2 linked regions of the Homo sapiens genome follow. The protein of the gene in region 1 interacts with the protein of each later gene in a pairwise test. Each region holds a gene or a part of one and is shown in the gene's direction. Other genes may lie near its edges.

Region 1 (7,994 bases):
AGAGTAGGATCTGGTGTGAGCTCTGCCATGGATTTGTTGTGTGACCTCCAGCAAGCCCAGTGCCCTCTCTGGGTTCTTGGTTACTTGGTCAGTAAATGCACATTTGGACTAAATGGGTGTGTGAGACACCCCCTAGCCTTCAATGCCCTGGACCCCCAGCCTTACTTTGCAACGACCTAGGAAGAGATACCATAGATAGGGGCACAGAAGCAGTGGGCATGCCAGGGGACTTCAGAACAGCTGGGGGAGGGGTCAGATTGCAGGGTGGGGCCCAGAGGACGGCTCACACCCTGGGAAGGGAGCTGAGGACAGTCCCAGCCCTGGGAGGGGCAGACAGCTGGCAGACAGGGTCGAGTTGCGGGGCAGGCCTTGGAGCTGGGAACAGCTGGGAGAGTTTTGTACACTCCTCGCCCATCCCTGGTTCTGTGTGCTCCAAGTGCCATCAAGGCCCTGGGGACCTCAGCTCCCCCACCCCCTGGCTTCTGGGCCACTCCCCAGTGACTGTCTCCTCAGTAAGGCAGGAGGGAACCTCTAAGAAAAAGCTGGCAACAGGTGCATGGGTGGGATGGCAAGAGTGAGAGCCGGCCCTGAGTCCTGGACTTGCCACACTGTGCTGTGGGCTGGCTGGCCTCAGCCTCGGTGCCCGAGGGTGGTTATGGACCTACAGAAGATGTGCAGGGCCTGAGAGCAGCCATCTGCATTAGGTGGGGCAGGGAGAGCGGGCCTGGCCTCTGTGCTCAGCAGCCCAGGCAGTGTCACCCACCCCCGGTGACACAGCCCGCCCTGCTCCCAAGATCTCAGGCCAGGAAGGGTCTGCCCATCACAGGGAGCAGGACTTCTTGCCACCCTAAGGGCCCAGGGAGCAGATGTGGCCCACTCTTCCCACCCCGACCAACCCTGCCACACCGACGCCATCTTCCCGGGTTTGCCATCCAGTGCTGAGAGCATCTCTCTAAAGGCCCCTAAGCTCCCCTAACCTAAGGCCTTGGCTTGCCAGGAGTGTCATGGGGAGCAACGCACAGACCTGTGGGTGCCCAGCATCAGAAGACACACTTTAGGGTCACACCTGTGGCCTTGGCCTAAGTGGGTTAGAGGAGCGTCTGGCCACACCCTGGACTTAGGGCTGCAAGCTCCGGGGTGGCCCTTGGCCTCCTTAGAAGTCCAAGCTGCTCTCTTGGAGCAGTGGCACCTGGTTCCCAAGGTTACTGTGCCTGGGAGGTCCCTTCCCAGTAGCAACCACAGCCTAGAACACTGCCCACAGCCTGGCCCTCTAGAATGGCCCCGCCCAGCTGCTTTTGATCTTTGTTGAACTAAAGTCAGCTGAGCCCCGCTAGGGAGCCAGGAGCGCCAGGCCCAGAAAAGCAGCAGCCGCAGCCGTAGACATGTCCAAGATGTTTTCTGGTGGTGCATCTTCAGCAGGGAGGCGGGAAGGGAACAGGTGTGGGCAGGCAGAGCTGAGCAGGGGTGCAGGAGGCCGCCTCCGGGCCCCAGATGGCATCTCAACTGTGGGAAGAGTCCCCCTGCCCTGGTCCTGCCCAGCAGGCTGGTGGCCACCTGAAGCAACTGTCAGGCTCTGGCCGTTGACTCTTCCTGCTGGACTGAACTCATGGCCAAGAGTTCGTTTTGGGGGAGCTCCTTTTTGTCTCCCCCAAAATGGCCTCCTTTATTTCCACCCTCAAGCTGCTGGGCCCCGGCTGGCCTCACGTTGGAGGGGCAGAACTGTAGCCACAGTGGCACCTGCCAGATACCTAAGCTGGGGCTGGATACCAGGTGAAGCTCTTACACATCGTGTCAAGGCATCTTGGCAGCCACCCCAGGGCCGCTCCTTAGGTAGCCCTCGCTTTGCAGATGAGGAAACAGTCACATGCTCAAGTCACACCGCTAGGAAGCGGTGGAGTTATGGTTGGGTCCAGGTCTGTCTAGATCCTGTGCTCTGCCAGTGCCTGCACCCCCCTTCCCGGCCCCGCCGATTGGCATCTTTTCATAAACTTGAAGGGCCCCAAGACTCTCTGCTTAGCTGAGCAGCCCACAGTCTTCCTGAGACCCCTTCCCAGGTCCACCAGGCCTCAGGGCCTGGAAACAGATACTTCCTAGCCCACATGGATCTGCTCCTCCAAACCAGTGAGGCCAAAGGGAGGGAGCAGAACATTTCATGAGACACTGCTGGAGGGTGAGTAGGAACAGGACAGGAGCCCAAGGGGATCTCATCGCCAGGGGCAAGCTAAGCACTGGGCTTGACAGGGACAGCAAGGCTACCGCATTGCACCATTATAGGGAGCATCATGCACACTAGCTGTGCAGTGCACAACCTGTGTTGCTGTACAGAGCAACTGGAGAGGGTGGCAGCAACAGGAATGTAGGAGCTGTAGGCATGTCCAGTGGTGAGACCGGCATTCCTCCTCCCAGGGACAGTGAGTGACTGCAGGCCTTGGGGCCCCAACACTCAAAAACAAATGTCCTGCCAAGTGGAGGGCCCGGCAGAGGCTCTTCAGCAATTCCCATTTTCCCCAGTCCTAGCCCTGCCTCTCAGAGAAAGGGCCAAGCTGCCACCTCCCCCTTCTCCCCAGACCCTGTTCCAGGCCCCAGCTGGCTTCCTGGCTGGCTGCTAGCCCTGGCTTTCACCCCAAAGGGAGCCACTCGTAAACAGGAAATGCTTCCCAATGCGATGCCTGCTCTGGGCGCCATCGCCAGCCCACAGGCCGAGGGCAATAGCCAAGCAGCAGTGTTAGCTGTTCCCACCAACTGCGGAAGAGGGGGATGCTCAGGGGCTTCCCAGCTCTGGGGCCCGCCATGACGGAAGAGTTGCCAGGCCTGAGACAGACGCCCACAGGCCGAGCCCACCAGCCTGTGGCTCTGCCTCTGACCCCACTGCCCTCCAGCAGTAACCCCCCTGTGAGCTGATCCCTGACACTGAGCATTTCTGCTCCCTCTTCCCAGAGACAGTCTAAAGGCAGCCCCCAAGTCCCAGAAAGCTGACTCCCCTAGCATCGACTACGCAGAGCTGCTGCAGCACTTTGAGAAGGTCCAGAACAAGCACCTGGAAGTGCGGCACCAGCGGAGCGGGCGTGGGGACCACCTGGACCGGAGGGTTGTCCTCTGACAGGCCTGGCACGGAGGAGGGCCCACCGAGTGGTCCCATGAAACACTAAGGGTCGTCACGCCCTCCCGAGGAGCTCAAGGACCTGCCTGTCAGGACCAGGGCTGGGCCTGCCAACCCAGGGCAGTGTTGGGGCCGGAGGCTGCTGTGTCTGCCCAAGCTCCTCTCAGAGTCCAGTCCCCAGGCCTCCAGCGCTGTCAGCTGCACCCTGGCATTCTCACAGAGCTGGCTGCCCACCCAGTGGGGGGCTATAGCCTCAGAGACCACTCATCCTCTGGAATCAACCTCTTTCTAATACCCTCTTGGAAAAAGAGCTTGCCCCTCCTCCAGCACACTAGAGCTCTGGCCTTGTGTGTATATGTATACATACGTGAACACATGCCTGTGTGTGTGTGTGTGTGTGTGTACTTGTATGCACGTAGGCACCAGCACAAAGATCTGAATGATGCACCCCACCCCCACCCCAATAAAGAAATAACAGAAAACCCTCAACCCGAGCCGGCCTGCTCCTTCCCAGCTGACACGTGCAGCTGTCCGGGGGCCTCACCCTCTGTCCTGGAGATCGGGTTTCATGATGGCCCCAAGGAGTACTGGCTGCCCCAGGGCCTGGTCCCTGCACTCACCTGAGTGGAGCCATGGGCCTAGAGCCTAGGTCCCCACCTCTGGAACCTGCACCCTCCTGGAGAGCACCATGCACTGCCTGCCCTGGAATCCTGAACCCTGCCTTCCCCAATCTGCCTTTCTCATCCTGACTCCCTGGGGCAATGGGAGTTCCCCACTGGGGACATGGGAGCTGAGCCCCAGGAGTTCCTGGATGAAAGGGCAATGCACACTGCAGAACACTTTGCAGATCTCGGGGCAAGGGGAGGAAAAGCCCAGAGCAGTCCAGGGAGGGGCAGGTGCCCCAACCACTGCTGCAGCTGAAAGCCCTTCCTCACCGGGAGTGGTACCACCTGTCCCCAGGCTTTGGGAACCCTGGGCTTGGTCTCCTAATGAGCTTGTAATTGGCTCCCTCCGGCCCATGGAGTAGGCGAGAAGGAGCTTGTGCCTGCTCTTCCCCAGAGTGCGCTCCCCCATCGTGCTGCCCCCCAGGGTGGGTTTCCCTGCCTGGAGTCTCCAGGACAGGCTGCGATTGACATTGCTACCCCATGCACGTGTGTGCATCGCACCCACCGTGGACTCAGGCAGCAGAGACCAAGGACACTCCAGCTCTGCTCTGCAGGTCCGACATTAGCCCCCACCCGCGAAGAAGGAGGTTGTTCAAGGCCCAGGAGACTACCACTGCCCCCCAAATGCCCAGCCTTGGGCACCCCATCCGGGTGGCATCGGCACCACTTGGAGAAGGAGCCAAGGAACTTGGAAGGGTCCGAACTTGAGGAAGGTCTGTGCCTGCGATGAAACGTCCCAAGGCGGGCGGCTCCACGATACCCCGCGCCCTGCTGTGTGCGGTGTATGCCACCCATCCAGCCCATGCACCGACCCCATCCCGCCACTGTACCCACTGCCTGTCTTTAGAAGCGCGAGAAGCCCCCCGCCCCAGACCAAAGGCCAGAAGATATCGTGGAGCCCCTGCCCGGGGGCCGAGGCCCAACCGCCAGTCCCGCTCCTGCGTGGGCAGGGCGGGCCCCGCCCAGCGCCGCCCCCCGACCCTCGGTGGCGCCCGCGCCCGTCGGCCCCGCTCGCCGGACCAGTCTGGCAGCGCCCGGGCTCGGATTTCAAAGCCCTGGTTTCTGGCCGTGAATGGGCCTGCGCCCGCGCGGCCGTTCCCACAGCCCCCTCCCGCGCGGCCCGCCCTCCTTCCCTCCCTCCTCGCGGTCCCCCCTCCGCCGCGCCCACGTGACGCCCGATCCTCGGCGGCTCGGATTACCGCCGCCGTCAGTCCCCGCGCCGAGGCTGCGCCGCGAGCTGCCCGCGCCGCGCCCCCCGCGCCGCCCGCCAGCCCCGCTGCGACATGGCCCGCGCCGCCCGCCGGAGGCCCGCGACCCCGGAGCGCGGCGCGGCCGGCCGCTGAGCGCAGCCTGGAGGCGGGAGGCCCGGCCCGGCCTCGGAGCGAGCGCCCGCGCGGCCTGGCCCCCTCCCTTGCGCTGCTCCCCGCGCTCCGTGCGCCTAGCCGCCGCCGCGGCCCGGCCCAGCCAGAGCATGGAGACGGCGGAGAAGGAGTGCGGCGCCCTGGGCGGGCTCTTCCAGGCCATAGTCAACGACATGAAGGTAACCGGGGCGCGGCGGGGCCGGGCGCGCGGCGACGGGTGCGGGACCCCCCGGGGACGCGTGGCGGCGGGTGGCCGAGCCTCGTGTGGCCGCGCGCCGCGGTGTCTGTGTGTCCTTGTCTGAGCGCGTCCTGCCTGCGTCTGCTGGGCGCCCGTGTCTCCGGGTGCCCGTCTGGGGGTGTGGGTGCTCGTGTGTCGGGGTGTCCGTGCGGTGCCCGCGGTGGCCCCGTGGGGTCCTGACCCGAGCCTGTGCACACGCAGGCTCCCTGCGCCCCAGACCGCCAAACCATGAATGGGGTTTGGATCCAGGACCGACTCTAGGGCCCTTTAACGAGTCCGGGGTCTTACCGGCCTCCGCCCCCTTCCACCACCATGTTCCCCCACGGCCCCGGAGCCCAGACAATGCTGTCACCGCCAAAGCAGGAAAAAATAATAAAGCGGAGAACCGTTAACTCCTTCCCCGCCGACCTAGGCCTCTGCACCCGACCGTGAGACTGCGTCCCCCAGCCCCGCCCCACCCCCACAGCCCCAGGAAGCTCCAGGACTCCAAGGTCTCCAGGCTGAATGTCCCTGCATCCCAAGGATAGGCCTTGATCATCACCTTGGGAGGAGGCGGGATGAAGGTTGGGGTCGGTGGAGCAACCCCAAGGAAGCGCTTTTCCTACCCCATTACCACCCTGGGCTCTCAGCTCCGAGCCCTCCTTGTCTCCCAGGATTGCTTAAGGTCAGGCTGGATCCAACCACCCATTCATTCCTCACCCCACCAGGTGGGGAAACTGAGGCCTGGAAATGGCTCAAGGTCACTAAGGAGACTATTGGACCCTTCCCCTGACCTCAGCCCCCATTTTTCCTCCTGGGAAAATTAGTGGGTTCCTCTCCCCAAATGAGGCCAGGGTTTGGCAGGGCTGCCCTACGCTGACTAGGCAGAGAGGGCCCAGCTCCAGTGATAGGGTGGGGGCCAGGAACCAGTATTCCTGCCCTCCTGCCGTGCCCCCTTTCCTTAGCCTAGGATGAAGGGGCAGGATTTGGGGGCTGGGAGAAGGGGAAAGAACGAGGCACCCCACAGGATCTCCCAAGGGCCCCCACCCCCACAGCCCAGCGCAGATTCTCCAAGTGCACAACACAGAATCCCACCAGGCCAGGGATGGGGGTGACACCACCCAGTACAGTGCTGCTAGGACAGGCCCCGTGAGGGGTGGGGGTTGCTGGCAGGTTGGAGTTCGAGGCTCCCGGTGCTGCCAGGACAACAGCCCCAGGGACAGCTGCCAGATCTCTGCCCCCGGAAGAGGCCTGAAGCCAGCCTGGCCTGGGACTACCCAGTTAGCGGCTTGTAGATGCCCCCCACCCCCTGCCCCTCATGGTGCACTCCCCCTGGGACCCCCATCTCTTGCAACTGTACATCTGGGCCCCTCCGCTGGCCCCCAGCAGTCCCCACCTGTCCTGTGGACATCACAGCCCTGGCCCCAGGATCCTGTTAAGGGACTGGGCAACACAGACCACCCTCCCCTGGCCGATCCCAGAGCTGGCTCCGGATGGGCCTTCCCGCACCCCACCACCCACCACCACTGGCAGCCTCATAGCAACCACTGCAGAGAGCAGCAGATTTTGCTCGTGGAAGTGGACTAGGACAGTCTCTCTCCCTCTCCAGCCAATTTGCAAGGAACTTTGGGATGAGACAGAAGGAAGTGGGCCCAGATCATAGCAAGAGGTTCAAGCCAGACATCGGGCATGATTTGCTGACATGTGGAGGCAAAACAGGAGAGGCTTCACCTGGGATGATGCCAAGGACAGATTCGCCCCTACCTATGACACAGGCATGTGTTCAGGGGCCATGACCAGGGGCAGAGAAGGGGATGAGGCCACCTGGAAGCTGACCACCTGGATTTGCGGGGGCAGCTTCTGGATTTTCCCCTCGGTGGCCTGAGCAGCAGGGCCTCCGTAGAGGAAGGGCGGCCATCAGCAGCCAGGTTGAGGAGACTGAGCTTGCCCCGTGAGGCCACCCCACAGTGAGTCCACAGGCCCCACAGAAGCCCTCCCCTGGGCCTCTGGGAGGCCCTGACCTTGGGCTGAGCGGGGGCCAAGGTCAGATGCCCACTGGTGTCAGGCTGCCCATTGAAACCCAGAGAGGGGCAGAGACTTGCCAAAGGTCATAGTTCTGGGCACGGCACCTTCAGCAAGGTGAATGGGGCCTCCACCCAGTGCTGGCCCAGCCAGAAAATGGGGTCATACTCTTCACCCACCCCTCAAGAGTGGGGAATGTCACCTGGACACATAGGCCTGGCCAGGCCTCTGCTAGGGGCCCCTGCAGAGGGCAGGGCTTGCGTACTGTTAGCTGGTGTTAACTGAGCACTTACTGCGTGCTGGGCGCTGCGAGGAGTGCTGGCTGAGCAGCACCTGCTTCAATTTCCACACTGACCCAGTGGGGCAGGTGCTCCTCCTCTCCTGATTTTACAGGTGAAGAAACTGAGGCTCAGACAGGGGGCCCTTGCCCAGGGGCACCTGGAAAGCCCACTCCCTGGGATTGGAGGCTGGATTGCTCACCCACACTCCACATCTGAACCACAGCCACTGCCGGGACAGAGACAGAGTCCCCTCATCCCTGTCCACTTGGGCGCCTCTAATGAGAAGCCCCTCACCTCCCCACTCCAGAGCAGCCACTGTGCTTGGGGCAGAACTGGGTGTCTCTCACA
Region 2 (6,954 bases), on another chromosome or scaffold:
GGTCCCGGGAGAAGCGGCGACGGCGGCGGCGCTCCGCCTCCCCGCCCCCGGCCACTTCCTCATCGTCGTCCTCGAGGCGCGAGCGGCACCGCGGGAAACACCGGGACGGTGGCGGCAGCAAGAAGAAGAAGAAGCGGTCGCGGTCCCGGGGTGAGAAGCGGTCTGGGGATGGCAGCGAGAAGGCCCCGGCGCCCGCCCCGCCGCCCTCTGGCTCCACCTCGTGTGGTGACCGCGACAGCCGCCGCCGGGGGGCCGTGCCACCCTCCATCCAGGACCTCACGGACCACGACCTCTTCGCCATCAAGCGGACCATCACGGTGGGCCGGCTTGACAAGTCCGACCCCCGAGGACCCTCTCCTGCTCCGGCCTCCTCACCTAAGCGGGAGGTCCTGTACGACTCCGAGGGACTGAGCGGCGAGGAGCGGGGCGGCAAGAGCAGCCAGAAGGATCGGCGCCGCTCGGGGGCCGCCTCCTCCTCCTCCTCTTCCCGGGAGAAGGGGTCTCGTCGGAAGGCGCTGGACGGGGGTGACCGGGATCGGGACAGGGACAGAGATAGGGACAGGGACAGGTCATCCAAGAAGGCCCGGCCCCCCAAGGAGTCGGCGCCTTCCTCAGGGCCCCCGCCAAAGCCACCAGTCAGCAGCGGCTCAGGCTCTTCATCCTCGTCGTCCTCCTGTTCTTCCCGGAAGGTGAAGCTGCAGTCCAAGGTGGCGGTGCTGATCCGCGAGGGTGTCAGCAGCACCACCCCGGCCAAGGATGCCGCGTCAGCCGGCCTGGGCTCCATTGGCGTCAAATTCAGCCGTGACCGCGAGAGTCGCTCCCCCTTCCTCAAACCTGACGAGCGGGCCCCCACTGAGATGGCCAAAGCAGCTCCGGGCAGCACCAAGCCCAAAAAGACCAAGGTCAAGGCCAAGGCAGGGGCCAAGAAAACCAAGGGGACCAAGGGAAAGACCAAGCCATCCAAGACCAGGAAAAAGGTCCGCAGTGGAGGTGGCAGCGGGGGCAGTGGTGGCCAGGTGTCGCTGAAGAAGTCCAAGGCGGATAGCTGCAGCCAGGCGGCAGGCACCAAGGGGGCGGAGGAGACTTCCTGGTCCGGGGAGGAGCGGGCAGCCAAGGTTCCTAGCACCCCGCCCCCCAAGGCAGCCCCACCACCCCCTGCCCTCACTCCGGACTCGCAGACCGTGGACAGCAGCTGCAAGACACCTGAGGTCTCCTTCCTGCCCGAGGAGGCCACTGAGGAGGCTGGGGTCCGAGGTGGGGCGGAGGAGGAGGAGGAGGAAGAAGAAGAGGAGGAGGAAGAGGAAGAGGAGGAGGAGCAGCAGCCTGCTACCACCACGGCCACCAGCACTGCTGCAGCCGCCCCAAGCACTGCCCCCAGCGCGGGGTCCACAGCCGGTGACTCGGGGGCGGAGGACGGGCCAGCTTCCCGTGTCTCCCAGCTGCCCACGTTGCCCCCGCCCATGCCCTGGAATCTGCCAGCTGGTGTGGACTGCACCACCAGCGGCGTCCTGGCCTGTGAGTGTCCCCTGGGGGAGGGTGGTGCTGGGGCAGGTGAGACAGGATGGGGACTGGAGGGTACAGACTTAGAGGCAGTGGGGTGCCCTGGCAGGGAGAGGTTTATAGGGACATAGACTGGGAGGGTGGGGGTGAGTAAAGGCCAGCCAGGCTCTAGGTGCCTGGGTGTACTGGGAGAGAGGGGCCGGTGAGAGCAGGTGGTGGCCAGCACAGACTGGAGTGGTGGGCTGGGTTCTGGGATTCCCCTAGACGGGGAGTAGGAGAGAGGGACCAGAAAGAATGGCTTGAGCAGGGCATCGTATTCCTTACGGATGGCGGTTGCCTCTACCAGACTGCAGAGGTGGGGAGAGAGGTTGGGACTGGCCACAGCGGGTCAGGAGGCAGAATCTCACTCCTGCCACTGTCTCATCACTGCATGACCCTGGCCAACCCCGCACCCACACACCTGGAGTCCCAAGAACATTCGTGGTATGGGCTGTTCTCTCATTGGCCAAGGCCCCCTTTTCCCAGTTCTGAGCGTGAGGCTTTGTGGCTGTTCTGGGGCCAAGGGCAGGAGATGACAGCAGGTGTCCAGGTGAGGTTCACCAGCTCCTGTCCTGTCACCTCTCCCATCTTCATGTTGTCACCTCTCTGCCTCCTGCAGTGACTGCACTTCTCTTCAAGATGGAAGAAGCCAACCTGGCGAGCCGAGCGAAGGCCCAGGAGCTGATCCAGGCCACCAACCAGGTGGGCTCCCCTGGGGGAGAGTCCCTGCCGCCCCTTCTTTTGTCCATTGCCTCGGGTTAGGAGAGGAACCGCGGGCCTGGCAGCTCTGGGGCAAGGTATCGGCCTGAAGAGGAGCCTGTTGCCTCAGCTGTGGGGAAGTCAGCGTGGGAACAGTGGGGTGCACGTCCCCTCTTCCCCTCCACCTCCCTTTACTCATCACCCCTCTGTCCTCGTCCCACAGATCCTCAGCCACAGAAAGCCACCCTCAAGTCTGGGGATGACCCCAGCTCCTGTGCCCACCTCTTTGGGTCTGCCCCCTGGCCCCTCCAGCTACCTGCTTCCTGGCAGCCTCCCTCTGGGGGGCTGCGGTTCGACCCCCCCCACCCCCACCGGGCTGGCTGCCACGTCTGACAAGAGAGAGGGCAGCAGCAGCTCTGAGGGCCGTGGGGACACAGATAAGGTGAGCTGGCCTGGGGAGAGGTGGGGCGGTGCTGACAGTTCTGTAGAGAATATGGACAGGAACTGAGACGCGGGGGCCCAAGGAGAAAGGGAGACTGAGGCAGGGAGACAGGGCCGTAGAGACCAAAGTCATGGAACCATAAGGAACTCCACTTTGCTGGAATGGGTGAGCAGGAAATGCGTTAGGCGTGTCCAAAGGAAAATCGCGTCTGTGCGTGTGTGGGGCTGTGTGCGTACACACCACATATACACACCCTGGAAGAGATGCCCCGCGCTGCAGCCCACCCCTTGATTATCTGTTGCTCGCGCTGTCTCCGTCTCTGTGAGTGGGGGAGGGTGGTTTCCGAATGAAAACTCAAGAACCTGTTTGTAGATGAAGCAGGGGAGAATGGGTGCCAGGCAGACAGTAATGTAGGTTCTTACTCAGCTGCTCTGGCCGGCTCCTACTCCTGGGCTCTGGAGCTGTTTCTCTCTTGGTCAGGTCTAGATGTGGGTTTTTGTTTTTGTTTTTCTTTGAGATGGAGTCTTGCTCTGTCACCTGGTCTGGAGTGCAATGGTGCCATCTCGGCTCACTGCAGCCTCCGCCTCCAGGGTTCAAGTGATTCTCCTACCTCAGCCTCCCGAGTAGCTGGGATGACAGGCACCCGCCACCACACCCAGCTAATTTTTGTATTTTTAGTAGAGACGGCATTTCACCACGTTGGCCAGGCTGGTCTTGACTCCTGACCTCAGGTGATCTGCCAGCCTCGGCCTCCCAAAGTGCAGGGATTACAGGTGTGAGCCACCGTGCCCGGCCTTGGTTGGTTGGTTTTTGAGACAGGGTCTCGCTTTGTCACCCAAGCTGGCATGCAGTGGCACAGTCACAGCTCACTGTAGCCTCAGCCTTGATCTCTCGGGCTCAAGGGATCCTCCTACGTCAGCATCCTGTGTAGCTAGGACTACAGGCACGCGCCACCATGCCCAGCTCATTTCTTAATTTTTTGTAGAGTTGGGGTCTCACTATGTTGCCCAGGCTGGTCTCAAATTCCTGAGCTCAAGTGATTCTCCCACCTCAGCCTCCCAAAGTGCTGGGATTATAGGCATGAGCCACTGCACCCAGCCTAGATGTGTTTTCTTACAGTCTAGTAGCCCATAGCCAGACGGTGACGTTGGCCACCCTTACACAGCTGTGTACCGTGCCAGATAAAGCTGTATAAACCCCATTAAACATCCTGTGTGAGCCGCAGAGGCGGGGCTGCAGTTTAGTCGGTCACTTGTCCGTAGCTTGTGCCTTGCGCTGCAGGACTCGGACGGTGAGGACCCCCTGGTCTACAGTGGCCCTTGCTCTGCCCTGGTCTGTGCTCTGCCCTTTGCCCCGCTTTGCCCATCCGAGATGGGTGTTGGGGAGCAGCGTCTCTCTAGAGACCCACATCCTGTGGGGCCAGGCAAGCCTGAGAAGTCCCTCCAGGGCAGCCTGTGTCTCTTCTGGCCACAGAGTTCCCTAACAGCTCAGTAGCTCGTCAGACAGTGTCACTGATGTTGCTCCTGGAGTCGGCTAGCCATTGTGCCCTGCCCTTCCCAGGACTCAGTTTACCTGCCCCTACTTTGATAGTCACCTGGCTTGGGAGGGCAGCTTCTCCAAGGGTGGTGCCAAGGGACTGTCCCTTGTGCCTGCAGAAGGCCTGTTCTTCTCTGGTCCCACGTGGCTCTCTGGCTAGAGGTTTCCTGTCTGCTTTTGCAAGGATTCTGCCTGAGGCCAGGGCTGCAGCTGCTGCCCCGAGCCTGCGGCTGCGGGATCTCCTAGCTTGCTGGCCACAGGCGGGAAGAGCCTTGCCTCGGAGGCTCTCTGCCCTGTCCCTGTTGCGTCCTCCCCTTTTCATCCCATGGCCATCCCCCTTGGAACAGGCACAGCTCCCCTGGATTGAGTCTTTGCTCTGTACCCAGCCTGTGCCATGTCCTCCATGTGTGTCGCTGTAGTACTGCCCATAGGTGCTGTCCCCGTTTTACAAATGAGCCACAAAGGTGGCCAGGCACGGTGGCTCATGCCTGTAATTCCAACACTTCGCAAGGCCGAGGCGGGTGAATCGCTTGAGCCCAGGAGTTCAAGATCAGCTTGGGCAACATAGTGAGACCTAGTCGCCACAAAAAGTACAAGAATTAGCCAGGCGTGGGGGTGGCACATCTAGTCCCAGCTATTCAGGAGGCTGAGGTGGGAAGATCGCTTTAGCCCAGGAGACCAGGGGTACAGTGAGCAGTGATTGTGCCACTGCACTCCAGCCTGCATGACAATGAGAGACCCTGTCTCAAAAACAAAGAAACAAAAAAGGAGCCACAAAAAGGTTTGGCTGAGCATCCCAGGGGTCAGAGACAGGGAGTGGCAGACCAGGCTTCTGATACAAATGGGCTCAAGGTCAGTCCCCACCCCCACTCCCCAGTGCCCCTCACCCCTAGCCACCCCCTCCATCCCCTGGGTGACCAGAGCAGTACTGTAAAAACCTAAACTGAGTCCTCCCCGCTCCCGCGGTGAAAAGCCCTGTGCAGTTTTCTACAGCCCCGCCTCTAGAGTCTGATTCAAAACCAGCTGCAATTTCTTGGCCAATGCCTGTCTTCTCATCAGACTGAACTTTGTGAGGGCAGGCGACACACATGTCCTGGTCCCGGCCAGGCCTGGAGCAGCCCAGGGTTCGGCCTGGAGGAGATGTTCAGTGACATGCAGAGGCCCAGGCCTGGCCTTTGGTCCCGGGCACCTGCAGCAGAGGGCGCATGGGACAGACCCTCAGCAGGACTTCCAGCCTGAGAGCAGCTGGACGGCCAGAGAGGTTAGGCTGGCAGCAGAGGCGAGTGGAGGTGGAGGTTCCGCAGGTACTCACTGGCCCTTGCTGTGTCTTCCCCCGCTGTCGCCACCCCACCAGTATCTGAAGAAGCTGCACACGCAGGAGCGGGCGGTGGAGGAGGTGAAGCTGGCCATCAAGCCATACTATCAGAAGAAGGACATCACCAAGGAGGAGTACAAGGACATCCTGAGGAAGGCCGTCCACAAGGTGGGCACCCGGAGAGAGGGGCAGACACAGGCCGGGGAGAGAACGAGCTGGAGGGACAGATGTGTGCAGACAGATGGACGCGGATGGGAGACGGGGAGGAGGTCAGTCTGGGAGGTGAGGAGGGTGACAGGATTTTCTCAAGGCCACCTGGGCCTGTTCCGCTGGCCCTGGGGCACCCATCGTCTAGGGGGACAGAGGGACTTTGGCCTGGTTATTGGGGAAGCTCCTCCTACCGCAGTTCCAAGCTGCGCCCAACAGTCCTGGGTGGATGGGGCCCCGGGAGCCTGGTGGTGACTCCAACTGTCCCCGGCCCCCCAGATCTGCCACAGCAAAAGTGGGGAAATCAACCCAGTGAAGGTGAGCAACCTGGTGCGGGCCTACGTCCAGCGCTACCGCTACTTCCGCAAGCACGGTCGCAAGCCAGGGGACCCCCCAGGGCCCCCACGGCCGCCCAAGGAGCCAGGGCCCCCAGACAAGGGTGGCCCGGGCCTGCCCCTGCCCCCTCTCTGAGAGCCCTGGCCAGCTCTTCGCCCCTCACCTCTTTGAAACTCTGGACGTATTTATGGCTCCACCTCCCCACCTCCCTCCCCCGTCAGTGGGATGACTGGGGGAGGGTTGCTGCAGGGAAGAGGAGAGCCCCCTGCCCTGCCCTGCCCCGTGTCCACCTCCCTTGCCCCCAAGCCTGTCCCCAGTGCCCCTCCCTTCTGTTTGTGCCCCTCTCCCCAATTTCATTAAAGATTTCATGAAACATTACCCCTGAGCCCCATGGTTCTAACCCTTTGTTTTCGGAGACAAATTTGCCAGAGGGTTGGGGAGGGACCCCCAGGAGGCTGAGGATGGGAGACAGAGACCAGACTGTGACTTGGGGCAGCTGCCTCCCCTGGGCCTCAGTTTTCTTATCTGTGTAGTGGGTGTTGTGATGATTGAACAAGACACAGGTGGAGCACTTAGCACAGTCTCTGGCTGGGAGCGAGCTGCTCACAGGGAGGCAGGGGCCGGACCCCACCTGATCAGCATCTTCCCAGCTCGGCTCCTGGGTGCCATGTGCCTGCCTTGGAATTGCTCCCAGAGCAGGATCTGTGTTCCCCATTGAGTTGGCTTCTCTTTTCAGCAGCCCCGTGAAGCTGGGGTGATCTCATCAACTGTCCTGAGAGGGAAACTGAGGCACAGAGCAGCAAGGGCCGAAGGGTGAGTCAGGGCTGCGCTGGCTTCTGCCAGTTTCATCACCCAGAACTGCGGCCCAACCAGGAGAGGT

The links. The genes of interacting proteins can lie anywhere in the genome.
Region 2: the proteins of MTSS2 (region 1) and SCAF1 interact in binary tests that used the Homo sapiens proteins (3 or more experiments, as listed by UniProt).

What each region holds. Positions count from the first base shown.
Region 1 is NC_000016.10:70,683,034-70,691,027, reverse strand, and holds the start of MTSS2 (protein MTSS 2), read left to right. Parts: upstream 1-4,974; 5' UTR 4,975-5,236; coding exon 5,237-5,305; intron 5,306-6,952; exon of another isoform or gene 6,953-6,974; coding exon of another isoform or gene 6,975-7,118; intron 7,119-7,994. UniProt on the Homo sapiens protein: Involved in plasma membrane dynamics. Potentiated PDGF-mediated formation of membrane ruffles and lamellipodia in fibroblasts, acting via RAC1 activation. May function in actin bundling.
Region 2 is NC_000019.10:49,652,191-49,659,144, forward strand, and holds the end of SCAF1 (splicing factor, arginine/serine-rich 19), read left to right. Parts: coding exon 1-1,515; intron 1,516-2,158; coding exon 2,159-2,241; intron 2,242-2,461; coding exon 2,462-2,680; intron 2,681-5,570; coding exon 5,571-5,699; intron 5,700-6,017; coding exon 6,018-6,209; 3' UTR 6,210-6,452; downstream 6,453-6,954.